3 linked regions of the Homo sapiens genome follow. The protein of the gene in region 3 interacts with the protein of the main gene of each other region in a pairwise test. Each region holds a gene or a part of one and is shown on either strand. Other genes may lie near its edges.

Region 1 (9,254 bases), on a different chromosome or scaffold from region 3:
TGTCTTGGTATTGCCCTCCCACCCCTCTAGCCTGCCCTCCCCCATTGGGGTGGCATAGCACTGGGCCCACTATACTCTAAAAGTGGGCAACTAGGCATTAGATAGCTCCTAATGCAATACTGACTGCACAGCACCACCTGTGAAATACTCTTAACAGGAGTCCAACTTGACTCTAATCCAGGCTCTAGAGCTACCTTCACTGATGGAGATATAGGTGATAGAGGAAACAATTAAATAACATGGGAATAAATGGGCAAATCCAGAATATGAAGCTTTCCACAGGGCTACCTGGTTTCTACAACATAGGCATGGGGGGAAATTACAAAAGACTGCTGAGGATTGATATAGATTTAGGAGCCTTAAGAACCAAATGTAATCTGTGGGCCTTGTTTTGTTCCTGATTCAAACAAACCCAATGTAAAAAGAGATGTTTTGAGATAGTCATGGAAATTTCATTTTGAACTGCATATTAGATGATGTCACGGAATTATTAAATTATTAGGTGTGATATGGTATTGTGTTTTTTTAGAAGCCCATTTTTTTTTTTTTTACATAGGCATTGTAGGGGCAAAGGGAAAACTTCCCCTTTGTCTTCTGAAGGCTTGCTAAAACTCAGCTGACAAAAGGCAGATTATTGGGAAAAAAGGCATACAAATTTTATTAAGATGCATATATGTGCATGGGATTCATACAAAATGTGAATTCTAAGAGGGGCTAGATGGTTGCTTAAATACTCTCTTTGGCTAGGCATGGTGGCTCATGCCAGTAATCCCAGCACTTTGGGAGGCCGAGGCGGGCAGATCACGAGGTCAGGAGATCAAGACCATCCTGGCTGACACGGTGAAACCCCATCTCTACTAAAAATACAAAAAATTAGCCGGGCGTGGTAGCGGGTGCCTGTAGTCCCAGCTACTCGGGAGGCTGAGGCAGGAGAATGGCATGAACCCAGGAGGCGGAGCTTGCAGTCAGCCGATCGTGCCACTGCACTTCAGCTTGGGCAACGGAGCAAGACTCTATCTCAAAAACAAACAAACAAACAAACAACAACAAAAAAACTCTCTTTATGGGAAGAGATGTATGAACCTGGGAGGTGGGAGGGAGACATTATGGGAAGGTGATGGGCAGAACTGCACAGGAACAAAGGTCATCTTATTTTGCAGATTAAGTTTCCCAGGTAATCTCTTGAAGCTTCCTTCAGAAGAATAGAAGAAAAGTCTGTCTGGGCATGGTGATGACTTCCAACATCTTCTCTTCTCTGGTGAGTGATCTTTCCTGGTTATTTGCTGAGACCCCCTAGGGAGGGGATCCTAAGAAAAATTGCATTTCTTTTGGAAAAAAGCTTTCTTGGTTAGACAAGGAAATTCCAGAGAGAGTCTCTCCCTATGCTTGGGAGGGGGTGGAGACAAGACAAGGTTAGGGGAACCTTGATTCTGAGGCAGCTTCTAAGGCCTCTCAGCATGTCAAAGCACAGTCTTTGGGGTATCACTTTTGAGCCCTAACAGCATATCTGAACATGTAGGGATAAAATGAAATGGTACCTAGGATTTGCTTTCTTTTTTCTTTTTTTTTTTTTTTGAGACAGTCTCTCACTCTGTTGCCCAGGCTGGAGTGCGGTGGCATGATCTCAGCTCACTGCAACCTCTGCCTCCTGAGTTCAAACAATTCTCCCGCCTCAGCCTCCCAAGTAGCTGGGAATACAGGCGTGCACCGCCATGCCCAGCTAATTTTTTGTATTTTTAGTAGAGTTGGGGTTTCACCATGATGGCCAAGCTGGTTTCTAACTCCTGACCTCAAGTGATCCGCCCACCTCGACCTCCCAAAGTGCTAGGATTACAGGCGTTAGCCACTGCACCCGGCCTAGGATTCGCTTTCAAAGGAAAGAGATAGATGAAGCAAATATGACAGAAACTTGATAATTGTTGACTCTGGGTATTTATTGTAATCATTTCCTTTTAAAATCTTCAAGTAAAAGGACATCGTGGTTTTTGAATATCCAGTGTCATAATGCCATGTCTTACTTTTATTATCAGAAAATTATGAATACTTTTAAATAATCGTTAACTCTCACAAAGAAAGGAAGGAAAGAAGAATAGAAAATCGTGCCTAGTTCTATCTCTGTTACCTTCTGGGACTTTATTTCTTCATTTGTAAAATTAAGAGTCTGAATACCCATCCAAAGAGAAGGAACAAGAATTTTATTCAAGATTCAGATGTATTGACTTAAAAGCTCCCTTAGTATTATTAATAGAAAAATTAGAAATAATCTATATGCAATAGGGAATTGGAGTAAATATATTGTGATATATCAATGAAAATACTATTCAGACAAAAATAATAATACAGTTGTATATTTATTAAGCTGGAACTATATAGATAACAAAAGATATTTTTTGGTGTAATCTCATTTTTATGAACCATAGATATATAGATACATGGACCTAGGGAAAATTCGAATGAAGAAGTTAACAGTGATTATATCTGGGTAATGAGATTACATTTGATTATTTCCCCCTACAATAAACTTATATTACTTTTTTAATGAGAAATGGTAAAAGATTTTTCTTTTTTGTGGAAGTTGTGGATTTCAAGATAAAATCAGAGAATCTACTTCATACAGCTGTAGAGGCACATCACATTGGCTGAGGTTGCTGTAGACACTTCCTCACTGCTCCTTACCTAATTTATGAGCATGGGAAGGGCTCAAGCAGCTTTCTCCAAAGCCCCCAAGCCAAAGGCACTACTAAACACATTCAGTGCTATTCCAGGCAGACCCCGTCCTGAGAGCGATGATTTTCAAGGATGCTGCTTTCCACTTTATTTAGCCCTTGATTAGCATTCACGAACTTCCTGAAATCAAAGACCCACACAGTCACTTGAAATCCAGCCAATGGCTGTGTAGTATGTTTCCTGCTGATGATGGTAACATTTAAATTGGACACATTTACTATAAGTTTATCTACCACTCTGCTGTGACTATTTCTGCTCTGCATTGAGGAGAGTGAGGAGCGCTCCATTACAGTCAGATGTACAGCTTCTTGTGGAAGGTGGGCAGGCATGTTCTTTCTAAGTCAGGTAAATTCCGACGAAGCATTGTGTATACCATTATGCTATGCATGAAAGCCCAAGTGGGGAGAAGTCTTAGCAGTGGATTCAGCTAATGCCAATTGCAAGAAAATGTGCACTTCACAAAAAAGAGCCATAAATGGCCAGTAAACATATAAAAAAGTTACTCCAACACATTTCATGAATTTTAAATGGCAAATCACACCTGGTAAAGGACTTATCCAAAATATGCAAAGAACTTTTAAACTCAACAATAAGAAAACAAACCACCCAATTTAAAAAATGAAGGCTGAGCCGGGCGTGGTGGCTCATGCCTGTAATCCCAGCATTTTGGGAGGCCAAGGGAGCAGATAAACTGAGGTCAGGAGTTCGAGACCAGTCTGGCCAACATGGTGAAACCCCATCTCTACTAAAAATACAAAAATTAGCCAGGCATGGTGGTGGGCACCTGTAATCCCAGCTACTTGGGAAGCTGAGGCAGGGGGAACTGCTTGAACTCGGGAGGCGGAGGTTGCAGTGAGCCAAGATTGGACCACTGCACTCCAGCCTGGGCTACAGAGTGAGGCTCTGTCTCAAAAAAAAAAAAAAAAAAATGAAAGCTGGGCATGGTGGTTCACACCTGTAATCCCAGCACTGTGGGAAGCTGAGGCAGAAGGATCACTTGAGCCCAGGAGTTTAAGACCAGCCTGGGAAGGATGATGAGATCTCATCTCTACAAAAAAAGAATTTTAGCCAGTATGGTGGCATGCACTTGTAGTCCCAGCTACTCGGGAGGCTGAGGTGGGAGGATTGCTTGAACCCAGGAATTTGAGGCAGCAGTGAAATATGATCACTACCCTACAGCCTGGGTGACAAAATGAGACCTGCATCTCTTTAAAAAAAAAAAAAGGAAGAGAAAAAGAAAGAGAGGGAGAGAGAAAGAGAGAGAGAGAGAAAGGAAGGAAGGAAGGGAGGGAGGGAGGGAGGGAGGGAGGAAGGGAGAAGAAGAGAAGACCTGAACAGATACCTCACCAAAGAAGATACAAAGATGGCAAGTATATAAAAAGATCCTCCACAAAATATGTCATTAGGAAATTGCAAATTAAAACAATAGTGAGATACAGCTGCATACTTATTAGAATGGCCAAAATCCAAAACACTGATAACACCAAATGCTGCCATGGATGTGGAGCAACAGGGGCTCTCATTCATTGCTGGTGGCAATGCAAAATGGCACTGCCACTTTGGAAGACAATTTGGTGGTTTCTCACAAAACTGAACATGCTCTTACTATCCAATCCAGTAGTTGTGTCCCTTGATATTTACCTAAATGAGTTAAAAACTTATATCCACATAAAACCTGCACATGACTGTTTATAGCAACTTTATTCATAATTGGCAAACCTTGGAAGCAAGCAATATGTTCTTCAGTGGGTAATTAGATAAATGAACTGTGGAATATCCAGACAATGGAATATTCATCAGCTTTCAAAAAAATAAGCTATCAAGCCATGAAAAGCCACGAAGAAAACTTAAATGTGTATTAAGTGAGAGAAGGCAATCTGAAAAGGCTAGGTACCATATAACTCCAATTATATGACATTATGAAAAAGACAAAACAATGGAAAGAGTAAAGGGATTGGTGATTGCCAGGGACAAGTGGGAGGGAATGTTGAATAGATAGAGTACAGAGGATTTTTAGGGCAGTGAAGGTATTGTGTATCATACTGTAACAGTGGATACGTGTCACTATGCATTTGTCAAAACCCATAGAATGTACAACACTAAGAATGAAACCTAGTGTAAACTACAGACACTGGGTAATAATGATGTGTCAACGTAGGTTCTATTGTAACAAATATACCACTGTGGTGGGAGATGTTGATAATGGGGAAGTCGGTGCACATCTGGAGGCAGGTATAACATGGGAGCACTCTGTGTATCCACTAAACTTTACATGAACCTAAAACTACTCTAAAGTCTATTTTTTCAAAAGCAAATTAAAACCCTTATTCTACTGGGCACAGTAGCTCACTCCTGTAATCCCAGCACTTTGGGAGGCCAAGACGGGAGGACTGCTTGAGCTCAGGAGTTTGAGACCAGCATGAACAACATGGCAAAACCCTGTCTCTACAAATAATGCAAATGTTAGCCAGGCATAGTGGCACGCACCTGTAGTCTCAGCTACTCAGAAGGCTGAGGTGGGAGGATCACTTGAGCCCGGGAGGCAGAAGTTGCAGCGAGCTGAGATTGTACCACTGCACTCAAGCCTGGGTGACAGAGCCAGATTCTGTCTCAAAAACAAAGTAAAAACCCTATTCTAACGACAAAAAATAAAGTTGGATAATATCTAATGTTAGTAAATGTGTGGAAAAACAACACGTGCATAGAGGTATGGAGGTACAAATTGGTATAAGGTTTTTAGATAGAAAATTGACGTTATCAATCAAAATTTTAAATACGTATACCTTTGACCACAAGTCCAATTGTAGGAATTAACCTACAGATAGATACCCTAAAGACTACACAGATATATATTTAAAGATTGTCATTGTAGAACTATTTGTAAGAGCAAAAAGCAAGAAACCAACTAGACGTCCACCTACAGGAAACTGGCACTTTGACATAAAAATATTGGGCATTGAGGTTCAATACCAATTTTGACCTTGGTATTCAATTTCTGATTTTTTTTTTTTTTTTTGAGACAGTCTTGCTCGGTCACCCAGGCTGGAGTACAGTGGTGTTATCTCGGTTTACTGCAACCTCCACTTTCTGGGTTCAAGTGATTCTTGTGCCTCAGCCTCCCTTGTAGCTGGGATTACAGGCATGTGCCACTACATCCAGCTAATTTTTGTGTTTTCAATAGAGATGGGGTTTCGCCATGTTGGCCAGGCTGGTCTCGAACCCCTGGCCTCAAGTGATCCAACCACTTCCCAAAAGTGCTGGGATTAGAGGTGTGAACCACTGTGCCAGGCCAATTTCTGATTTTTGACCCAAGCTTTCCCTCTGGAAAACCATATAGCTGAATGGCTACTTCAGTCTCTTTTCTGACATTCTTAAACTTGTGTGTGATCATGAAACTGTGTAAGTACCACCTCACACCTAGGCAGCCTAGCAATGTCAGTAATACCAACAAGGCCTGTCATTCAGAATTATTGTGACTATCTATGAATAGTATATGGAAGCATGCTACAAAAAAGTCAAACTGGAAATCTCACATTTTATGTTTTGAAGCTCTATTAAATGATTGAAATATGTATGTTAATACATAATTATAAACTTATTTTGAAACAATTATAGATTCACATGTAGTTATGAGAAATACAGACTTGAGACCTTCCTTTTTTCTTCTTTTCATACAACTTTTTGAAATATCCTTTTTTTTTTTTTTTTTTTTTGAGACAGTCTCACTCTGTCACCTAGGCTGGAGGGCAGTGGTGCAATCTCAGCTCACTGCAACCTCCGCCTCCTGGGTTCAAGCCATTCTCCTGCCTCAGCCTCCCAAGTAGCTGGGACTGCAGTCACCTGCCACCATATCCAGCTCCTTTTTGTATTTTTAGTAGAGATGGGGTTTAACTATGTTGGCCAGGCTGGTCTCGAACTCCTAACCTCACATGATCCACCTGCCTTGGCCTCACAAAGTATTGGGATTAAAGATGTGAGCCACTGCTCCCAGCCTTGAAATATCCTCTTTTCTAATGCAGGGATTTCATGCTATAACTTTGCCTCTCAAGACTTCTTTAGCAGTATCTTACAAATTTTGATATATCGTCTTTACATTTTTATTTAGTTGAATGTGTTTTTAATTTTCCTTAAGACCCTCTTTTTGACCCAAGTATTATTTACAAGTGTGTTTAGTTTGCAAGTGTTTAAAAATTTTCATGTTATCTTTCTGTTATTGGTTTCTAGTTTGTTTCCACTGTAGTCAGAAAACACACTCTTAGGATTTCAATGGGTATTAATTTTTCAAGGTTTTTTTTTTTTTTTTTGGCCTAGGACATGGTCTGTCTTGGTATATGTACTGTGGGCACATGAAAATAATGTGTGGCCTGTTGTTGAGTGTTTCACAAAAGTCAGTTCAATCCTGTTAATTGATGGTCATGTTATTTCTTCTATGTCCTTGCTGATTTTCTGTCTAGCTTTTCTATCAATTGTTGAGAGAAGGATGTTGCAGTCTTCAATTGTAATTGTGGATTTGTCTGTTTCTCTTTTCAATACTATCAGTTTTTGCTTTACATATTTTGTAGTTCTGTTATTTGGTACATATATAATTAGGATTGCTATGCCTTTGTGGTAGATTTATACTTTTATTATTAGTAATGTACTTCACCATCTCTGGTAATTTTTTTTTTTTTTTTTTTGAGATGGAGTCTCACTCTGTCTCCCAGGCTGGAGTGCAGTGGCACAATCTCGGCTCACTGCAACCTCCACCTCCTGGGTTCAAGCGATTCTCCTGCCTCAGCCTCCCAGGTAGCTGGGATTACAAGTGTGTACCTCCACGCCCAGCTAATTTTTGTATTTTTAGTAGAGACGAGGTTTCACCATGTTGGCCTGACTGGTCTTGATCCTAACCTCATGATCTGCCTGCCTTGGCCTCCGAAAGTGCTAGGGTTAGGTAATTTTGTTTGCTCTGAAGTCCACTTATCTAATGTTAACATAACATTTTAAATTAATGCTTGTGTAATTTTTTGTCCTTTTACTTTCAACATACGTTATTGTATTTGATGTGAGTTTCTTGTAGAGAACATATAATTAGGGCATGTTTTTAATCCATTATGCTAGTTACTGTATTTTAATTTTTATAGTTAAACCATTTACATTTAATGTAACTATTGATATGTTTGGGCTTAAGCCTACCACTTTATCTTTTTTATTTATTTATTTATTTTTATTTTTTATTTATTTATTTTCTTTGAGACGGAGTCTCGCTCTGTTGCCCAGGCTGGAGTGCAGTGGTGTGATCTCGGCTCATTGCAAGCTCCACCTCCCGGGTTCACGCCATTCTCCTGCCTTAGCCTCCGGAGTAGCCAGGACTACAGACGCTCACCCCCATGCCTGGCTAATTTTTTTTGTATTTTTTTTAGTGGAGAGGGGGTTTCACCATGTTGGCCAGGATGGTCTTGATCTCCTGACCTGGTGGTCTGCCCGCCTCGGCCTCCCAAAGTGCTGGGATTACAGGTGTGAGCCATCACGCCCAGCATTTTTTTTTTTTTTTTTGAGATGGAGTCTCACTCTGTCACCCAGGCTGGAGTACAGTGGCACAATCTCAGCTCACTGCAAGCTCCGCCTCCCAGGTTTACGCATTCTCCTGCCTCAGCCTCCCGAGTAGCTGGGACTACAGGTGACTGCCACCATGCTCGGCTAATGTTTTTGTATTTTCAGTAGAGACGGGGTTTCACTGTGTTAGCCAGGATGGTCTTGATCTCCTAACCTCGTGATCCACCTGCCTCGACCTCCCAAAGTGCTGGGATTGCAGGCGTGAGCCACCGTGCCCGGCCTTATGTGTCCGGAATTGATTCCTTCCAGTGGATTCTTGGTCTTGCTGACTTCAAGAACAAAGCCACAGACCCTTGCGGTGAGTGTTACAGTTCTTAAAGATGGTCCGGAGTTTGTTCCTTCAGATGTTCAGATGTATCCGGAGTTTCTTCCTTCTGGTGGGTTCGTGGTCTCGCTGACTTCAGGAGTGAAGCTTCAGACCTTCACTGTGAGGGTTACAGCTCTTAAAGGTGGTGCGTCAGGAGTTGTTTGTTCCTTCCAGTGGGTTTGTGGTCTCGCTGGCTTCAGGAGTGAAGCTGCAGACCTTCGCGGTGAGTGTTACAGCTCTTAAAGGTGGCACGTCTGGAGTTGCTTTTTCCTCCTGGTGGGTCCATGGTCTCAGTGGCTTCAGGAGTGAAGCTGCAGACCTTCACGGTAAGTGTGACAACTCATGAAGTTAGTGCGGACCCAAAGAGTGAGCAGCAGCAAGATTTATTGCGAAGAGTGAAAGAACAAAGCTTCCACAGCATGGAAGGGGACCTGAGCGGGTTGCCACTGCTGACTTGGGTGGCCAGCTTTTATTCCCTTATTTGGCCCCACCCACATCCTGCTGATTGGTCCATTTTACAGAGAGCTGATTGGTCCATTTTACAGAGTGCTGATTGGTGTGTTTACAAACCTTTTAGCTAGACACAGAGCTCTGATTGGTGCATTTACAATCCTTTAGCTAGACAGAA
Region 2 (10,957 bases), on a different chromosome or scaffold from region 3:
AAGCTCCGCCTCCCGGGTTCACGTCATTCTCCTGCCTCAGCCTCCCGAGTAGCTGGGACTACAGGCGCCCGCCACCGTGCCCAGCTAATTTTTTGTATTTTTAGTACAGACGGGGTTTCACCGTGGTCTCGATCTCCTGACCTTGTGATCCGCCCGCCTCGGCCTCCCAAAGTGCCGGGATTACAGGCGTGAGCCACCGTGCCCGGCCATGTAACCAACTCCTATCATCTTTGAGTTTGTCATATATTTTTTTTTTAATTTATTTTATTTTATTTTTATTTTTTTTTTAGGCAGAGCCTTGCTCTGTTGCCCAGGCTGTAGTACAGTGGTGCCATCTCGGCTCACTGCAACCTCCACCTCCCTGGTTCAAGTGATTCTTCTGCCTCAGCCTCCTGAGTAGCTGGGATTGCAGGCACCCACCACATTCAGCTAATTTTTGTATTTTTTTTAGTAGAGATGGGGTATCACCATGTTGGCCGGGCTGGTCTTGAACTCCTGACCTCAGGTGATCTGCCTGCCTCAGCCTCCCAAAGTGCTGGGATTACAGGTGTGAGCCACCACACCCAGCCTGTCAGAATTTTTGAGAGAAATTTTAGAACATATTTTTTTTCCTTTTTAAAGCCAATTTAAATACCTCTGCTATGGGTTGCTTTTTTTTTTAAGGTAAGAAAATGAACTTTCTAAATTATCTTCAGGGGAACAACTTAGCAATCATTTAAAAACTCTTACTTCTTTTTCTATCTGTCTCTACTGATTCTACCAATGTCAATGGAGGAGAACAGAACGTGGCAGAAATATTATGAGAGATATGACTATTCCAGCAGGAACAAAATGATGGGAATATAGGATGATAACAGGTCAACTCAACTGGCTTAAACAAGGCAGTATCTAGGCCGGGCGTGGTGGCTCACGCCTGTAATTCCAGCACTTTGGGAGGCTGAGGCAGGTGGATCAACTGAGGTTGGGAGTTCAAGACCAGCCTGACCAAGATGGAGAAACCCCATCTCTACTAAAAATACAAAATTAGCCAGGGTAGTGGCGCATGCCTGTAATCCTAGCTACTCGGGAGGCTGAGGCAGGAGAATCGCTTGAACCCGGGAGGTGGAGGTTGCGGTGAGCCGAGATTGCACCATTGCACTCCAGCCTGGTAAAAAGAGCGAAACTCCGTCTCAAAAAAAAAAAAAAAAAAAAAGCAGCGAGATAATATCTTATGTCACATAACAAGAAGTCCTAATTAGGGTGGTGTCAAACCTGGTTAATCAAAGAGCTATGAAGTCTTTGTATTGTTCTGCTTTGCCATGGTGTCTATTTTGTCCACAATATGGCTACAGAATTCCTAGGTACCATATGCAAGCATGCAAGATCCAGAGGAAGAAGACATAGTCTTTTTTTGTAGGTTTCTTTTAAAAGTGAGGAACATCTTCCTAAAAGGCACCAAGCCAGGTTTCCTTCTGGTCTCAGTGGTCAGGTCTGTGAGACCTGTCCATGCCTAAAGCAATCCCTGGCAAGGGGAATGGGACCACTACGACTGACTCTGCACGTCAGGCCTTACCCCTGTGAGCTGAGATTGGACTTCTTTTCCCGAGGGGATTCTTGAATTAAAGTCCTTGTTTAGTTAACAAGAAAGAAGTGAGTGATGAATGTTAAGTATGCAATAAGGTCTAATATTTGGGGCAAGAAAGATGAATATTTGCTTGATCCTATTCTATGCCAAGGACTTTGCCTGGATTCTTTCACTTAATCCTTACAGTAAACCAAAGAAAATAAAATGAAGACATTGTCATCCCCATTTTGCTGCTGATGAACCTGAGGCATAGAGAAGTTAATTAAATTGTTAAAGGTCACATAAGAGTCAGTGATAGCCAAGGCAGGCAGATCACCTGAGGTCAGGAGTTTGAGACCAGCCTGGCCAACATGGTGAAACCCTGTCTCTACTAAAAATACAAAAATTGGCCGGGTGAGGCGGTGCGTGCCTGTAATCCTAGCTACTCGGGAGGCTGAGGCGGGAGGATCGCTTGAACCCGGGAGGCAGAGGTTGCAGTGAGCTGAGATCATAGCACTGCACTCCAGCCTGGGTGACAGAGTGAGACTGCGTCTCAAAAAAACAAAACAAAACTTGAACTTGGTTGCATACATTTAATTTTATTTATTCCACCCCCTTCCCTGAATTTGAAATGTTAAAAGTGTCTAGTTGCTTAACATGACATTTTGAATTTTTACAGATACAATTTTCATGAGCTAAATTTTAAATTCACAATATTTTAATTAAAAATGCTACCAGGCTAGGCATGGTGGCTCACACCTGTAATCCCAGCCTTTTTGGAGGCCGAGGTGGGAGGATCACTTGAGCCTAAGAGTTCATCAAGACCAGCCTGGGCAACATAGTGAGATCTTGTCTCTACAAAAAAAATATAAAAATTAGCCAGGCCTGGTGGCATATGCCTGTAGTCCCAGCTACTCGGGAGGCTGAGGTGGGAGGATTGCTTGAGCTTGGGAAGTCGAGGCTGCAGTGAGCCAACATGGCACCACTGCACTCCAGCAACAAAGTGAGGCCCTGTCTCAAAAAAAAAAAAAGCTACCAGAAAAATATGCAAATATCATTATGCTGCTTTTAGGAAACAAAATCACAATTCTTCCTTCCTTTATTTATTTATTTATTTATTTATTTTCTGAGGCAGAGTCTCCCTGTGTCGCCCAGGATAGAGTGCAGTGGCGTGATCTTGGCTCACTGCAACCTCTGCCTCCAGGGCTCAGGTGACTCTCCTGCCTCAGCCTCCCGAATAGCTGGGACAACAGGCATGTGCCATCATGCCCAGCTAATTTTTTTATATATTTTCAGTAGAGATGGGGGTTTCACCATGTTGGTCAGGCTGGTCTTGAACTCCTGACCTCAAGTGATCTGCCGGCCTCAGCCTCCCAAAATGCTGGCATTACAGGCGTGAGCCACCTCACTCGGCCCTTTCCTTTATTTATGTTTTTTTTGTTGCTTAAAAGCAGTGCTTCCATTTCATTATTTGATCATGGCTTTTAAAATTATTTTATTTATTTATTTTTTTAAGAGACAGACTCTTACTCTGTTACCCAGGCTAGAGTGCAGTGGTAAGATCATAGTTCATTACAGCCTCAAACTTCTGGGCTCAAGTGATCCTTCCACCTAGCCTCCTGAGTAGCTGGGACCACTAGCATGTGACACCACATTGGCTAATTTTTTTTTGTTTTTTGTTTTTGTTTTTGTAGAGACAGGGTCTCATTTTGTTGCCCAGGCTGGTCTTGAACTCCTGGCTTCAAGCAATCCTCCCACCTCGGCCTTCCAAAGTGCTGGGATTACAGGCGTAAACCACCATGCCTGGCCTAATCATGCCTTTATAAAAAAATCATTTTTTTTTAGAGAAAAGGTCTCACTATGTTGGTCAGGCTGGATAGGAACTCCTGAGTTCAAGTGATCCTCCACCTCAGCTTCCCCCTGTGCCCCACTCAATCATGCCTTTTTATTATAACTGATTCTGATGGTATGCTGACAGATATACAAATTAATCCAGTCCTTTGGAGCTTAAAAATAATACAATGAAAAAAATCATTTTTATGGTGTGGTGCATCATAAAGTTTATTTATTTATTTATTGAGACGAAGTTTTGCTCTTGTCGCCCAGACTGGAGTGCAATGGCGCCACCTCGGGTCACTGCAACCTAGGCCACTCCGGGTTCAAGCGATTCTCCTGCCTCAGCCTCCCGAGTAGCTGGCGCACGCTACCACGCCCAACTAATTTTTGTAGTTTTAGTAGAGGCGGGGTTTCACCACGTTGGCCAGGCTGGTTTCCAACTCCTGACCTCAAGTGATCCACCCGCCTCTGCCTCCTCAGGCGTGAGCCATCGCGCCCGGCCAATAAAGCATTTTAATGCATTTTTCCTCAAAGTATTCATAAACTTCAACTTGTTCTAGGTAAAATTATTTTCCCCTTTCTACCCACAATAAAATGAGTAATTTAAGCCCTTAACCTACACATTATTCTTACCTTGGAATATTTAATAAGAGCTGCGCTAATATTATATCTGAATAATGAAATAAGAGAAACCAAATAAGAAAAATTTGTCATAAAGCCCTATTCTCCTACATTAGATTATGTGCATGGCACACACACGGATCAGCTTAAGCTGGGTGAAACTATATGGAGTTAGAATTCCTGGCTTCCTATCATTCAGTAGCTGTGTGGCCGAGAAGAAGACTTTAATGTTGTAGGACCTTTAAAATGGGCTGTAACTCAAAGGCCCTCCTTCTGGAGTTGTTGTGAATCACGTGGGGTAATATATACTAGTTTACAAGATGGATGTGTAAGCCCGAAGGTGGAGCAGGTTTGCAAGCCTTCTTTCAGCCTAGGGACAGTAGGATGACTCATGAGTCAATTCTTCTCTCCTTCCCGTCATTTCGGGTCCAACTCTTCCTCCTGTAGTCCACAAAAGAGCACGGCTGACCGATACCAAGCAGAGAACCCAGTAGGGTATGTGACCACGTTCAGATCAACAGAACGCAAAGCAGAACGGTCCGAGTACTGCCTCCTACAGCCACTTTCCTTTCTTTAAGCCTCAGCTGCTGCTCTAGGTGTAAAACCGGCATAAAATAGCACTACGTACCTTGCAGAGTTGCTCGGAGGATTGAAGGAGATAATGTAAGAGAGTTTGGCTAGTTTGGCTATGATGGATGGACATTTTCTCTTTTCTAACGTCTCTCTTCCCCTCCTAATGAAACCTCTTCTGAAGCTCGCTAACTATAGCAGGGCTTGCAGCTTCAAAAAAACCTTTCAGTCAAGATCTTGAAATTAGTATTATTTAAATCAGTGCAGTAACACCAAGGTGTAAAAGACTGTTACCCACTGGTGGCTTTAAGAGGATTAGCTGACTGAAGAGTTTTAGAAAACATGGAAACTTTTTTTGTACGTGGATGGATGGAATTCCCTGATCTCCTTATCCCCACCACTTAAACCATGCCTTGTGGGTGACCGTGGAAGGCTGATTGTGGCGGGGACATTTACAAAGCACATTTAATTGATAAGCACTCGATTGTTCTGTAACTATAGAACTAGTTCACCTTTCAGTTGCACTGAGTGCGCCTAAGATAACGATCTTATTTGGAAGTGAGCCCTCGCTAGAAAGAAGGGGAAAAGGGTAAGACCGAAGCTCAAATGAATGACCAGAAAGGATGTTTTCATTCGAATAAACTCAACCCAGTTTTTGACCTCCCCACCCATCTCTGCCAACTTGAAATCCTCCTGGAGGGGCGAGCTGCTGGGGTTCAGGACTGGGCGTTGCGGCTGCAGGAAGCCGTGGGACCTGGGGGGTCCCTCGGCCGGGCAACCCCCACCCACCCCTACAGGACCCTGGTGCGGGGGCGAGCAGGGAGTGGACGCAGAGAAAGTTCCCCGCTCTGCTCCCGCCCTCTCCGAAACTCGAGCCAGCGAGGCTGGGGGCGGGCGGACGGCTCGCAGAGGAATTTGCAGTTTCCGGGAGGTTGAGGAAGCGACCCGAGCACAGCCCCAGCAGACGCAGCCCTAGCGCCCGGCTTTCCGGGTTCCGCGACGCTGTCGGGAGAAACCCGCGCGCCTGGAAGGGGCGGGCCGGGCTCCCCCCACCTGCGGGCGGGCGGGGAGGGTCGCGGCCGCGCGGGGTGGGGCTCGGCCGGTCGCCCGTCCGGGGCGGGGCCCAGGGAGGCGGGGTCGCGGGCGCACCGGGGCCGAGCCGCGCCTGGAGCCTGGCGGGGAGGCGGCAGGAGGGGCCGGGAGAGCCTGATTGAGCGGCGGCCGCAGCTGCATAAGGACTGCCCGGGGCTGCGCGCCGGGAACCTCGCGGGGCTGGCGGGCGCCGCACCCCCTCCCTGGCCGCCTGCGCCCCGGGGAGGCCGCCCGCGCGCGACGGGACCGGCAGCATGAGCAGCGGCTACAGCAGCCTGGAGGAGGACGCCGAGGACTTCTTCTTCACCGCCAGGACCTCCTTCTTCAGGAGAGCGCCCCAGGGCAAGCCCCGCTCCGGCCAACAAGTGAGTGGCGCGCGGCGGGCGCTGCAGCCCGCGCCCCAGAGTTCCGGGGAACCCGCCAGCCCGCGCCCCCTGCCTCCACGTGTCTCTGCGGGGCGCTCGGGGGATGCTCGCCGGGAAGGAGGAGCGGGCCGAGAAGTGGCTTCTGCCTTTTCGGGTCCCGGGAACGTGCCTGGAGCTTGTGCGTGTAGGCGAGGGAAGGCGGAGGAAGGGCGGGGAGGCTGAGGGCCGGCTTCTGCCTTCCGCGCCAGATGGCCTCTGCAGCTCCGCCTCGGGCTGCCGCCTGCGGGGAGCAGCCCCGGAGCCAGCAGGCGTCCCCGGGCCACTCCCCCAGGTTTCCCCTTCGCGTCCCCGCTGGGTCGACGGTCGGGTTCGCGCGCCTGTCCTTCCTGTTAGTCAGCTTACTCATCTGTGGCCCCCAGAGTGGCTTGGGTCAACGTGTAATAGCTAGGGGTGGCCGGGTGACCTGACCTCCCCTCTTCCTGGCCCGGGCGACCTGGTGGAGTGGGGGTCCAAGGGCACCGTGGGCCTCGCCACCATAGGCTCTCACTAAATCTCCGTTGCGGGACTCAGGGTTGTGCGTTTTCTGTAAAGCTAGGTTTTTTGGTGCCCAGATGTTTTGCAAACAAGCTCCTATGCTAAATACTAGCCAGCGACAGCTAACCTTTTCGCCGGTTTCTTCCTTTTTTGGAGGCAGCATGCCGTGGGAAGCACGAGTTGGGAAAAGATGGGAAGGGAACTTGTGCCAGTTTCGCCAGCTGTAGCCGTGTTTTTTGGGAGGCCTTCCCGAAACGGGGCACGTCGGCTGGACTGAGGAGCCCGGTGCTAGAGCCCGCGGCCTCCTGGCACTAGGAGCCGCACCAGGGGAGCCGGGCCAACCCGGCCACGCTCACATCAGATTACAGAAGATTGTAATGGCACAAATTTGTTGCTTTTAGAAAACAGGCGTTCGCCAAACATTTCTATTAATACCGGACTGAGACCTAGAGACTAGAAGCAAGAAGAATCGTTCAGGGGCCGGATGATAACTTCTTTTGGTGGATGTGGGAGGGTGCAATCTGTCAGGGTGGTCTTGCCAGACCTCTTAAGTTTAGCCACTTTCTGAAGTAAAATTCTTTCTAAAATTCGGAAGTTCTAGTCTTTTCAGGCTCTTAAGTCCCAAACCAGGAGGAGGAGAGGAGACGGTGAAGGGTAAGCTGAAGTCAAGTGCCCTTATTCAGTAACCGCAGTTAATCTCAAGTCCCGGTGCCATAGTTGTCCGTCTTGTATTGTTTCTAAGGCTTAAGGCCCCACTATTTACGAGTCACTTTGAGTGGGATCTCTTACTTTCAGCAGAGTGTGTTCTGAGAGCATGAGATTGCTGTGAAGTTTGGAAGTTGGAAACGCCCTCTCCTCCCCCATGCCCACCCTCCCTGGGTTGTAGAAAAATTGCATTTGCTTATGCTTTTTCCATTTTTGCTTTCTCTTTCTTGGCCTCTCTCTTCCCCTTCTCCGTTTTGCATTTTCTCCTTTCATTTATGTTGCTTTCACCACTTGACATGAAAAGGAACTCATGGTAGTTTGAAGTTTATTCCAGAGGTGTCTGCTAATCTCCTGAAAACTGGCTGGTTCTTGGATTCTCCAGGGGTGAGATGCCACAAGGGCCAAACTATTCAGGTTTGAATTGTATGAGAATCCTTTAGTGCTTTAAAGAGTAAAGACATCAGTTTTTTTCTAGGTTTATATGCATTTAGCGTTTCTTTTTTTTTTTTTTTTTTTGAGATGGAGTCTCACTGTGTTACCCAGGCTGGAGTGCAGTCGTGTGATCTCACTGCAACCTCAGCTTCCCTGGTTCAAGCGATTCCCTTGCCTCAGCTTCCCGAGTAGCTGAGATTACAGGCATGCACCACCACATCTGGCTCATTTTTGTATTTTTAGTAGAGATGGGATTTAACCATGTTGGCCAGGCTGGTCTCGAACTCCTGGCCTCAGGTAATCTGCCCGCCTTGGCCTCCCAAAGTGCAGGGATTACAGATGTGAGCCACCGCCCCCGGCACATTTATTGTTTCTATGTTGTATGCAATCATTTATGTATCATCTAGCATATATATTATACTCAGGGTAGTATTATTTAGCATTTAGAATTAGTCTAACATTAATATGTATTTTGAAATATCGTGTTGGAAATCAGGACAGGAAGACATAGTTCGTGGTTGAAGAGCTTCATATGTGTATTTGAAGCTTTATTGCCTGCATATTTTTCCCTTCTAACATAACACATGTAAGGTGCTGAGTTGTAGAAGTTATTTGCCAGGCAGAGAAAGTGTTCTAAACTACGAATTTTAGTGAGCATTGTGGTTTATTTAAAGAAGTGATATGAATGTTTTAAATTCCTGGTAAGATTGGTGAATTAGGGAAGTAAAACATCATAAATATAAAGCAAAACACTCTTAATGTAGAATGTTCCTTTTATCTAACGTTAGATAAGCCTTTTTCTTCATTTTCATGCTGATGATTATAAGAATAAGATAAGCACTTCTGACATACATCATAGTAGTGAAATTTATCCTTTCTCTAGAGAGATGGAAAGAGAGGTATTGCTAGAAGGATCTATTAGAGATACAGTGATTTTTTTTTTTTTTGGATGCTGTACCACCTGGTGGAAAAGTGAGAAAAATGAGGTTTCTAGATTTCTTGAAAATATCCGGAGAAAACAAGATGTTTGTGGTAAATGCAGAATGGGGAGAAAGGGGTGAGGGAGCGGGTGGACTGGAAATTTCTTTCTTCTCTTGCCAGGCAAGGGAACATAGTGCAACTTCTTTCTATCCCCAACAGTAACAAAAACCTTATAAAGAAAATGTTTTCATTTTTTTTCTTACTTTAAACCCCATTCTTAACAACAAGAACAACAACAAAAATGGAAAAGGGTTAAAAAACCTGTCTAGGCCACGTGTGGTAGCTCATGCCTGTAATTCCAGCACTTTGGGAGGCTGAGATGGGAGGATTGCTTGAGCCCAGGAGTTTGAGACCAGCCTGGACAACATGGTGAAACCCTGTCTCTACAAAAAAAATGCAAAAATTAGTCAGGCATGGTGGTGCTCGCCTGTAGTCCCAGCTACTCGGGAGACTGAGGTGGGAGCATTGCTTAAGGCCGGGAGGCAGAGGTTGCAGTGAGCTGTGATCGCACCACTGCACTCCAGCCTGGGCAACAGAGCGAGACCCTGTCTCAAAAACAAAACTGTCTAAAAGATATAAAGGGAACGAACATATGACGTTTTGTGGCAGTTTGAATGTCATGTTTATTGTATCCGCAGGGTCTCGATCAGTACCTGATATACAGTAGTTGCTCAGTGAATGCAAGCTGAATGAATGAATGTTTTCCTGATTTGATAGTAACTGGGTCTTTACCATTTCTTTTTTTTTTTTTTTTTGAGATGGAGTTTCACTCTTGTTGCCCAGGCTGGAGTGCAATGGCGTGATCTCGGCTCACTGCAACCTCCGTCTCCCGCGTGCAAACGATTCTCCTGCCTCAGCCTCCCGAGTAGCTGGGATCACAGGCACCTGCCACCATATCCAGCTAAATTTTGTAGTAGAGACGGGGTCTCACCATGTTGGCCAGGCTGGTCTTGAATTCCTGACCTCAGGTGATCTGCCCGCCTCGGCCTCCCAAAGTGCTGGGATTACAGGCGTGAGCCACCGCACCTGGCCCCTGATCTTTACCATTTTCAAATGTACTGTATCTTATGGTGCTCCCAAAAACTGTATGAAACATTAACTTAATGAAAGGGGGAGGTATTATTTAGTGATTGTATAAGGCCCACACCTAGATAGCAAGAAGGCTGGAACTCAGGTTTTCAGACTCAAATTACACTCTCTATTTTGTTACTTTTTAGCTATAAAAATAATTTTATGGCTCCATATTCCCTTTGCAAATAAGGACACCTAAAATTTAAGAGTTTCTTAAAATTTCTTTTCTTTTCTTTTTTTTTTTTTTTTGAGATAGATTCTTACTGTGTCACCCAGACTGGAGTGCAGTGGCAGGATCTTGGCTCACTGCAACCTCCATCTCCCAGGATCAATTGATTCTCATACCTCAGCCTCCTGAGTAGTTGGGATTACAGGCACCCGCTGCCAGGCCTGGCTTTTTTTTTTGTATTTTAGTCTAGATGGGGTTTTGCCATGTTGGCCAGGCTGGTCTTGAACTTCTGACCTTAAGTGATCTGCCCTCCTTGGCCTCCCAAAGTGCTGGGATTATAGGCATGAGCCACCGCGCCTGGCTGTTTCTTAAAATTTCAACTCCCTGACCTGCATATAGTCATGACAGTGTTTATAATTTGTATTTGTGGATTCACGTATTTGTGGATTCGCTGTGTTTCAAAGGATCCACCTAATCATTGTTTTCAGCAAAACCAAAAATGTGGACAGTTGTGTAATTTATTATTTGCCTTCTTGATTTCCCACCAAAATCAAACTACCTGTAAATACAGGACACATTCAGATTTCCAAAGAATAGAAATGGTCTAAAGTTATAATCTGTCAGAGTGTGTCTTACCTCTTAGCTAAGCTACCTCTCCTCCTGAGCCTTTGGTAGTTCATGGGAATAAGGAAATGAGACAGTATTTTTGCTTTAGAAGTAGGGTAGTCAAGAAGTCTTGAGAAACGTGAAATTGTCTTCTGAACAACCCACACTTTAAAAAAAATTGCGCTGAAGAATTTTACTTCAGTAAGTAAGTCTATTAGACTCCCCATAGCAGGCCTCAACTTCACCCTTTCGGTTTTCTCTTTCTTATTCAAATATTTTTGTGCCTCAATTATTTGGTTGTGTCTTATTGCTAGAATCAACAGTAATGAGCTGCACTCTTTTATTAGTGTTTCCATTAGAAGTTTAGAGCTAGATCACTGGGGTAAAAGAATAGTGGTTTATGACATAATAGGTATTTTGACTCTACTAGCC
Region 3 (10,117 bases):
ACCCACAACCCAAAGACTAAACAGCAGCAAACACTTGGCTTCCCAGGCATCCACACCACCCACCATATGGCTGTAGCCCTGAGGTGGCATCTACCCAGGAAGAGGTCTTCCACCCTCCCCGTCCCCCTGTCCACCTTACCTTATGGTTGTAGAAATGGCCGTTGATGGAGAAGCGGTGGCGTCTGATTCGCCGCTGGTCACTAGGCGTCCTCACATTGCCACGGCGACGCACCCCAACATCACTGCGTGTGCGCATCAGCTGTGGGGTGTCCTCCTGCAGGGGCTTCAGGCCCCTGGAGTCTGAGAGAGGAGAGGGAAATGAACTCTGTCTGTCTGGACCTGGGACATGGCACATGGTCCCCAATTTGTGGCCAGTGCGACAGCACCCACTGTCTCCACAAATATATATTTTATACAAATAATATTTTCTGCTGGGGGAAAAACATAATGCAGAATTTACAGAGAACCTATACAAGGAAAAGTTCAGAGAACAGACTTCAGAGCCGGACTCCCTGGGTTCAAATCCCTGCTCCATGATTGCCATATATCACTAACCTCTCTGTGCCTCGGTGCTTTTATATATAAAATAGGGATAATAATAACACCCACCTCAGAGGGTTGCTGAGGGTTTAAATGAGTTAGTATACATAAAGCACTTAGAATAGTGCCTGGCACAGGATAAGCATGATATAAGAGCTAACAAGATACTGCAAACAAACTCTGACACATGCTACCCACGGATGAACCTTGATGACATTATGCTAAGTGCAACAAGCCAATTACAAAACAGCAAATACTGAATGATTCCACTTATATGAGATACTTAGAGTGTACCTCATATAAGTGTACCACATATAATTGAGGTACACTGTAAGTACATTCTAGGTACATACAAAATTACAGAGACAGAGAGTAGAATGGTGGTTGCCAGGAGCTAAAGAGAGAAGGATGTGGGGAGCTATTGGGAGTTTAATGGGTACAGAGTTTCAGTTTCACAAGATGGAAAGAGTTCTGGAGATGGATGGTGGTGATGGTTGCGCAACATTATGAGTGCTTTTAATACCACTGAACTGTACCACTTAACATGGTTAAGATGGTAAACGTTATGTTATGTATATCTTACCACAATAAAAAATTAGAAAAAATAATGTTTAACAGAACATGTATCTAAAAATATGTGGGGTTCCCATGGCATATGTCTATCCTTGTATGTGTATAAATATACAATACTGACATTAATCACAAGTAGGTTAATCTGCTCTTATTAAAATATATTTAATCCACGTAATATAAAAAAGATTTTGCAAACTGACAATATCTATGAAAATTAAAAATGCATATGGCCTTAAACCCAGAAAGTCCACTTGAAAGAATCCTACACGCTGACAAATGTGTGACGTGACACATGTATAAGGCCGCCGACTGCAAACTCGTTTGTCATAGCAGAGGCTGAAAATGACTTAAATGTCTACCAGTAGGGAGTGATTACATAAATTATCCTTTTTCCATACAGTGAAAGAATGCAGAGCTGTAAAGAATAAGGAAGTTCTTTACAAATGTATATGGAAACATTCCCCCAGATAAACTGATAAATAAAAACTGGGATCTGCACAATGCTACCACTTGTATAACTAGGGGAAGAAAAGAAACTACATCCAACCAGGCGCGGTGGCTCATGCCTATAATCCCAGCATTTTGGGAGGCTGAGGCGGGCAGATCACTTGAAGCCAGGAGTTCAAGACCAGCCTGGCCAACATGGCAAAAACCCATCAGCACTAGAAATACAAAAATTAGCTGGGCATGGTGGCCCATGCCTTTAATCCCAGCTACTCAGGAGGCAGAGGTGGGAGGATCACTTGAACCCAGGAAGCAGAGCCAAGATTGCACTACTGCACTGCATCCTCCTGAGTGACAGAGGGAGATGGGAAGGGAAGGGAAGGGGAGAGGAGGGGAGGGGAGGGGAGGGGAGGGGAGGGGGAAAGAAACTACATCCACCCATAAAGACATGTCAGTGTGTTTTGCTTATATTTGCATGGACTATCCCACGAAGGATGTTCTCGGGATGCTTCTAGGTGGGTGGATGAGGTGGGTGACTTAATTCTCTCCCTTTGTATCTTGAACCATATACATTTTATATTCTCAAAAATAAATAACAGTTTACAACATCTATCACAGCGGTCTTCACACAGTTGGTCCCTAGCTGGAAGTACCTTCCACTCACATGTACCTGTGGAGCTTGGCATCTGGTCACCCTCCGGCGGGGCATCCACCTCTGAGATCTGAACTTTGGGCACAGTCAGGGGCTTCAGAGTGGTTCTGGGAGTGGAGAAGACAAAGGGGAGGGGGGAGACTAGTTTAAGCCCTGTGGAGAGACGCCCCCGCACCCGCTGGACCCCACTCCTGAAAGGGGAGCACTTTGCTAGTGCCAGGCTGGGTACTGGCACACATCAGGTGATGAAGGGTGCAGATGGGCTGCGCGGAGCATCCCGTGAAAGGCTGGCCCAGCTCCCAGGTCAAGCAGTGGGTGGGGCAGGGGGAGTTCCGGAGGGAGAAGATGTTCTTTTGCAGCAACTGCAGTAACACACCCAACCAATTCATCAAGCCCAGGATGGATAATACCAAGGAACAAAACCCACGTGTTGCCTGCACTGCTTCTAAGCATGTATGGATTCTATGGCTTACTTGGAAAACTCTAATAGTGGCCATTCGTTTTGCAGGGTAAGATTCCAGTTTAGACTCATTGCTGTTGAAGAAATAACTCATAATTGCTTCTGGCATTCAAAAGGAATGGAAAGTAATAAGTTGGCCACAACAAGGGCAGGGGCAGCTTTGGAAGGGACACTGACAGTGTTCTCAGCGTTGCAAGGATGGAGTCCTCATCCAAGCTGAAGAAAGGGTTACAAGCAGGCAGTCCAAGCTGAGACCCTGGTTTGCCATCATAACTGGCAAATAACTTCTCAAAGCCAAAAAGGACAAAGGGAGCAGCTCAGAAAAACATCCAAAATCAACAGAGGATTTGGCTAGAAAGGAGAATCATATTTGACCAATTAGGAACAACCCATGGTGAGAAGAGCATGGGCTCCCTGGGACCCAGTAGAGATAAACCTCATGTTCTGGGGAGGATCGTTTTAAGGAAGGACAATTAAAATGGAAAATCTGAAAGAACTTCCTATTGTAATTTAACTCATATACTTCTGAACCACAGAATGGACCTGGTCAGAGCTTCTGGGGAATGGTGAACACTTGGCACCCAGAGCAGCGACTCCCACTCCCTGATTTAAAGCCTTCATTCTTGCTGAAGCAGGAACCGGTCTCAGCATCCTTATTTTTTTTTTTTATTTTATTTTTTTGTAGAGACAGGGTTTCACCATGTTGCCCAGGCTGGTCTTGAATTCCTGAGCTCAAGTGATCACCCGCCTCAGCCTCCCGAAGTGCTGGGATTATAGGCACGATCCACCACGCACAGCCTCAGGATCCTTCTTAAGACAGCAGTCTAGGCATTCACTGTATTATAGCTGACATCTAAATGACACCATTTACCATTCCTGAAAATTCTACCAAAGTATTTTGCAGAGTCAGCCAGGACCAGCTTGATGCCGCAGAGAAGGGAGAAGAAGCAGGCGGACCGAAGGACCCTTTAGCAGCCCAAACCAAAGGCCACAGGCTCAAACGAAATCTTAAAAATCATCTCACTTAGGGAATAGAATAGTCTGGGGGTCAGGGTCAGGCTGTGAAATGGGCTTGGCCATTGGCAGTCAAATACAGCAATAATACAGTATAGTATAACAAATACAGTATAGTATAACAAATACAGTACAGTGTAACAAGTACAGCTGGGCATGGTGGCTCACACCTGTAATCCCAGCACGTTGGGAAGTCAAGGTGGGAGGATTGCCTGAGGCCAGGAGTTTGAGACCAACCTGTGCAACATAGTGAGACCCCATTTCTACAAAAAACATGAAAATTATCCAGGTAGGGCCAGTATGGTGGCTCACCCCTGTGGTCCCGGAACTTTGGGAGGTCAAGGAAGGTGGATATCTTGAGGTCATGAGTTCAAGACCAGCCTGGCCAACATGATGAAACCCCCTCTCTACCAAAAAATACAAAAATGGCTGGGTTTGGTGGTGGGCACCTGTAATCCCAGCTACTCAGGAGGCTGAGGCACGAATCGCTTGAACCCGAGAGGCAGAGGTTGCAGTGAGCCGAGATCGCATCACTGCACTCCAGCCTGGGCAACAGAAAAAAAAAAGGTCGGGGTGGGGCGGTGTGCACCTATAGTCCCAGCTGCTGGGGAGTCTGAGTTGGGAGGATCACTTGAGCCTAGGAGGTTGAGGCTGCAGTAAGCTGTGATTAAGCCACCGCACTCCAGCCTGGGAAACAGAGTGAGACCTTGTCTCAAACAAAACAAAACAAAAATATGGTGATAGTGCTGAAAAGCAGAGCATGAAACCTGCAAAGTTAGATGAAACCAAAGAACCTTAACCAGACATCCTAGCACCTATGGGGTGGGCAACAATTTTCCTCCTTAAATCCCCTTGGAAAGAAACCAGACCAGCCCCAGGGCTGGCCACATAGTAGGTTTCTCTCAATTGTAGAGAAACATAGATTTGGCTGTGGAGTTTAGCAAAATGTTCAATGTGGCCAACAGAGAGGGCTTGGTTTTCATTTAAACCAGAAAAAAAGGTCACTGTGGTTTTGGCTGAGAGGCGAGCACACTCCACCCAGGCTGGGGCCGAAGGCAGTCAGCATCAGCAGGTTTCAGGATGGAGACAGGCTAGTCACTTGATCCTAAAACTCAAGTCCCAGAAAGACAATAAAGAGGGCATGCCTTGCTAGAGGCATTTGGCGGCGCATTTGGCGGCTTATTCAGCCATGGAGGATAAGGAGGGATGGACTAGGTCTTCCCAGCCCTTCTGGTGGGAACTTAGACTACCACCATCTCACCAAACCCTGGCTCCCCGTATGGTCTGCAGGGAGCAGACCCCTGGCTGATCTCGCTTGGCTGACTCTGACAGAGCCTGACATTCCTTTTCCTCTTCTAGGTTCCCCCAAGATTCAGAGAGCTTTGGTCAGAAGGTTCAAGTCATAAATGCTTTGGAGTGGGGCTATTCTATGAGGAGTGGTCCCAGTGGGGAGGGTGCTGGGGCATGGGGCGCCCTGTTAGAAATATACAGGCTGGGCCTCACTAGCCACTAGCAGCTCCACTCAGAGACTCCTGAGTTCTCCCTAAGGGAGGACTCTGACTCAGCAGCTCCCCTCGTATGACTCAGCAGCTCCCCTCCTGTGACCTCATCAGTGATTGCAGTGACAGGAAGGGGGCTCAATCACAACCACATCTGCTGCTTGTTCCTCATTCCAAGGCTAAGGCAGGTGGGCAGTAGAGGTAGTAGGAGGAGGAGCCAGGGTCAGGGCTGGCTGGAAGAAGGCAGCATTTATCTGCTTGAGAACACATAGAACACCCAAGCATCCCAGTCATCTCCCTGCCCCGTCTCTCCTCACTCACCCCTGAGCCCCCAGGTTACAGCCAGAGTGCCAGGAGGAGGAGGATGGAGGGGGTCGAATGCGTTCGTTGTCATCCTGCATCTGCAGGCGAATGGGCCGGCGCAGGCCCCAGGAGATGTTCAGGAGCCCCTCCACAATGAACTCGTCTTCTTCCTGCCCACAAAGCAATCAGAGTAGTGAGCCTAGAAAAGCCCCCACAGAAGCCAAGACCATGCTGAGGGACAAATGACACATTCTTCACATGTCCTGGCTGGGGGCCCCCAGACTGTATTCACAGGATAGGGGCAGCTGCCCAGTTCACACCGCAGCTCTGAGATACTTTCTGACGTCAACTACTCCAGATCCTGAAGCTGACCTCACAGGTCAGCACAAAAGTTGCTGTGAAATTCAAATACATAGGTATAAATTATAAAAAGCATTGTTTTTCTTTTTATCCTAATGACTTTTAAAGAAAGCGGAATACATTTCTTAAAATAAGTGAGATTAGCCTTGTTAACAGAAGCAAGAACTGGAGTTAGCTACGTCCCATCCCCTACTACGGAAAATGATGTCTCTTTAGCTACAACATCTGTTTAGCAATCCAACCTGGTGGTTGAAGGAAATTTAAAGCAACATTTGCCGAAGTTTATTCTACAGAACACTAGCTCCTCTAGCAGATGAACTGCTGTCTTTAAAAGGGTGTCAAGTGATCATGAGCTGGGAGAGGCTGTGCTAATCAGATTTCCAAACAGCAGAATGTCCCAGGTTCTGTAATAAACTAACGGGCTAAATGACAACTCTCCAACAGGTGAATAAATCTTGCAGGAGTCCCCAATTTATACTCAAAGGTTGCTGACTAATTAGACATTAAATGTAAAACCATTCTAGAGGCATTTATATGTTCTATCCCGAAGAATTGGGACTCGCTTATGACTATGAAATCCTTTAATCATGAAGCACTTTTAATCATTTATTCTATAGGACATAACCCAGGAAAGCTATTTAAGAACTAAAATCTTGCATGGCCCAGCTGCTGATTAGTAAAAGCTTGAAGGGCAGTTCCTAAAAGAATCGGTTCTCCTCCCTCTAGTCTCAGAAAAACCTTTTTGGAGCCATGTTTTATGGGCTATTCAAGTGTTAGATCTGGGTCATGGAACACATCTTCAGGACAAGCCCCATAGGTGAAAATAACATCAGCCCATTGAGCAACTAACTAACTTGGGCCCCAAAATCATCCTCAAAGAGGGAGGAAGGAATAAAAGAGGGAAGGAGAGAAATGAAACAATTTTACGGTGCTTAGGCGTCTCAGGGAGGAAGGCTTTATGTAAACATAGGCAATTTACATGGCCTTCCCCTGGTCAAGGTGGGCATCATTCCTTTACACAATTGTAGGTCAAAATTTAACCCAAAACAGGATTTTGTCTAAGTGGAGTGGTTTGAGGGACACAGAATAGGCCACTACATCCCACATACTGTCCCCAAGCAACCTGCCCTAGCAGCTGAAATTCCACCATCTGTTATCTGTTTCTATGGTTAAATCGCCACAGCTTGATAACCTGAAAATGTGTTTCAAAGGGCATTACACATAGGGACCTTTTTATCAGTCACAGGCGCTTGAGTATAAAGTACCCTACCAGACTCCTTTATAACTCATCATCTATCTGATAACAGGCTTTAGAGAAATGGATACAGGATGAGTAAGCTCAGTTTCAGGATGGGAATCAGATGAGTAACAAAAGCAACCTAGGATGACCAAGTGTGGGGACGGGCCCACTATCAGTGGGGACTCTGCTAACATCCAGAGCTTATGTGCTTTGCCCAGGTCACTGCAGTGATAGGACTTGGGCCCAAATGTTTAAACACAGAGGACTGGGTGGGGTTCCCGAATTGCCCAACGAGAGAACGTCTGCTTGGGAGCCACCTGGAAAGGTCATTTCATGAAAGCTCCCTCTGGAGAATCTCCCCCATGAGACTGGGCTAGCCCTGCCACATTTCTACAGGAATGTCTCTGGAACACATCTCTGAAACATTCATCCTTTTTGGAACAAAACTGGGCCTGGAGTCTTCTTCCAAAGAACCCCAAGGACTCTCACTAGCAACCTAAATAAGAAGCAGGAGAGGCAGGGTTCTCTTGGGACCTCAGGGACCTTCAGACCCAGGACACATGGTGACAAGCCCTGGACTAGCCAATCAGGGCCGTCCCTGGGGACTCCTTACCTCCCGGTGCCGGAGCTGTAAATTCTGGCCTTCATAGTACAAGTTGTAGGTCTTCAGATGCAAGAGAAGTTCATTTCTTAGGGGGAAAAATAGAAGAGATATAACATTATCAGCTGAAGCCACTTATAATGCAGTTGTTCCCTCTTTCTCTCACCTCTCACCTGGCCTTCAGTCACCCCACTTTGGGTAACTGTCCACATGTACATACACACACATGCACATGCACACAGAGTTCTGCCACCACCACCCCATAACCATCTTCCCCCAGGATCAAAGTCAAGAGTGAGCACCACCCCAGAACAATGCTTAAAGTAAGGAGCAACTCCAGGACACCAAGGCAGGCCTCGTCTACCGACAATACTCCCAAACTCAAGCTGAATGAGCAGGTGTTAATAAGCCATGGATTCACTGAGGCGAGCACTTCAGAGCCCACACACAGCGATTCTCCTGCATGGCTGTGGCCTTTTCTCCCTCAAGCACGCTGTGAGTGAGGAAAGGACAATAATGATAGGCCTTCACAAGACTCAGAAGCTGGCTGCGCGCAGTGGCTCATGCCTGTAATCCCAGTACTTTGGGAGGCCAAGACCAGCGGATCACTTAAGGTCAGGAGTTTGAGACCAGCCTGGCCAACATGGTGAAACCCCATCTCTAACAAAAATACAAAAAATTAGCCAGGCGTGGTGGTGCACACCTGTATTCCCAGCTACTCAGGAGGCTGAGGCAGGAGAATCACCCAAACCTCAGAGGCAGAGGTTGCAGTGAGCTGAGATCGCGCCACTGCACTCCAGCCTGGGCAAAAGACTGAGACTCCATCTCAAAAAAACAAACAAACAAACAAAAAAAAAAAAACTTGCAAACTCCCATCAGCATCAGAATGGGTGCATAAAGGAAGCAATAGCCACACAACGGAAAATTATCAGCGAAGAGAATGTGAATGAACTACACAACTACACGCATGTGTGTGACTCATGGGAATTATAGGATATGTGCTTTTCTTGTGTCTAGCTTCTTTCACAAAAAAGCACAGATCATATTCCATTGACAGAAAGTTCAAAATGGAGTGTTAGAATTCAGGATAGTGGTTCACCTTGGGGAGTAGTGACAAGAAGTGGGCATGAGGTGGCTTCTGGGCCCTGGCAATACTTTTTCAGTTCTAAAAATTAAAAAATAAAAACCCTTAGAAACTCCCCCTCTGAAGCCCAGCACTGGACCTCCTTAGCCACCAAGTTTTCCAAGTGGCTGCACTGGGAGTACAGCTCTACTGCACGTGGCCAGAGAGGAGATTTCACCCCCTTTGTGATCAGGGAAATCCCTCATCAACCCTGAGAATGCACAAGTCAAGTTTCATCTGAAAGTGCATGTTTTGCACTCCAGGTGGGATGAGAGGGGCGAGAGGTGGAGGGGGCCACTGTGCGCTTTTGTCTAGTCTCAAGTAAGAGGTGGCAGAGTTCAGCCTCTCTGAACCCAGCCATTCAGTGGAGAGATTTTGGACCACGCCAGGAGTCAAGACCCACTGGAAATGCCAAGAAAATCCTGACAAGTTAAACCTAGATAAAGCAGCATGATTCTATGCAAGCTGAAATAAATTTGTGGAAAATGTGATTCGAAATCACCTAAGACAAAAGGCCGTTTGGTACTTTTGAACACACAGATCTGAAACCGGGAGAGAAAATCATTGGTTGGTAGAAGTCCCTGGGGAAATCTGTCCACAAAGAGATAAGAATGGTCAGATGTCACAAAACATGTGTCAAGTGTGCCTAAGGACTTCCAACAATTTAGTCCCAGATAAATTAAATATTTCGTTAAGATAGAGAAATCCCAGCTGGGTGTGGTGGCTCACGCCTGTAATCCCAGCACTTTGGGAGGCCAAGGCGGGTGGATCACCTGAGGTCAGGTGTTCAAGACCAGCCCGACCAACATGGTGAAAGCCCACCTCTACTAAAAATTAAAAAATTAGCTGGGTGTGGTGGCGCATGCCTGTAATCCCAGCTACCTGGGAGGTTGAGGCAGGAGAATCACTTGAACCCAGGAGGCAGAGGTTGCCATGAACTGAGATCACGCCACTGCACTCCAGCCTAGGTGACAGAGGGAGAGTCCTTCTAAAAAAAAAAAAAAGAGATAGAGAAATCTTATGCTGGAACTTCCAATTCAAGGGTCTATTTTGGCTCAAGCCCAGTCACATTAGCAAAAAGCCTGAGCTCAAGAGACTTTAGTGCACAGAAAGCAATTAAATTGTCCCCTTCTATTCAGAGGGCATTAGCCAGACCCAGAGCAGCCGAGGGACACACTACTCCAGCCAGGACTCCCTGGGAACACAACGGACAGGACGGGGAGCAGTGTCTGAGTCCATTCTGGCTGCCGGACCATAGACTGGGTGGCTTCTAAAGAACAGAAATTCATTTCTCACAGCTCTGGTGGC

What was found.
Region 1: the proteins of RASSF2 (region 3) and S100Z interact in binary tests that used the Homo sapiens proteins (3 or more experiments, as listed by UniProt).
Region 2: the proteins of RASSF2 (region 3) and RASSF3 interact in a two-hybrid assay, tested with the Homo sapiens proteins (one study listed by IntAct).

What each region holds. Positions count from the first base shown.
Region 1 is NC_000005.10:76,914,310-76,923,563, reverse strand, and holds the end of S100Z (protein S100-Z), read right to left. Parts: intron 2,848-9,254; 3' UTR 1,914-2,847; downstream 1-1,913.
Region 2 is NC_000012.12:64,604,717-64,615,673, forward strand, and holds the start of RASSF3 (ras association domain-containing protein 3), read left to right. Parts: upstream 1-5,778; 5' UTR 5,779-5,916; coding exon 5,917-6,027; exon of another isoform or gene 6,028-6,130; coding exon of another isoform or gene 6,131-6,205; intron 6,206-10,957.
Region 3 is NC_000020.11:4,790,312-4,800,428, forward strand, and holds part of RASSF2 (ras association domain-containing protein 2), read right to left. Parts: intron 7,775-10,117; coding exon 7,699-7,774; intron 5,656-7,698; coding exon 5,504-5,655; intron 2,317-5,503; coding exon 2,228-2,316; coding exon of another isoform or gene 2,222-2,227; intron 301-2,221; coding exon 140-300; intron 1-139. UniProt on the Homo sapiens protein: Potential tumor suppressor. Acts as a KRAS-specific effector protein. May promote apoptosis and cell cycle arrest. Stabilizes STK3/MST2 by protecting it from proteasomal degradation.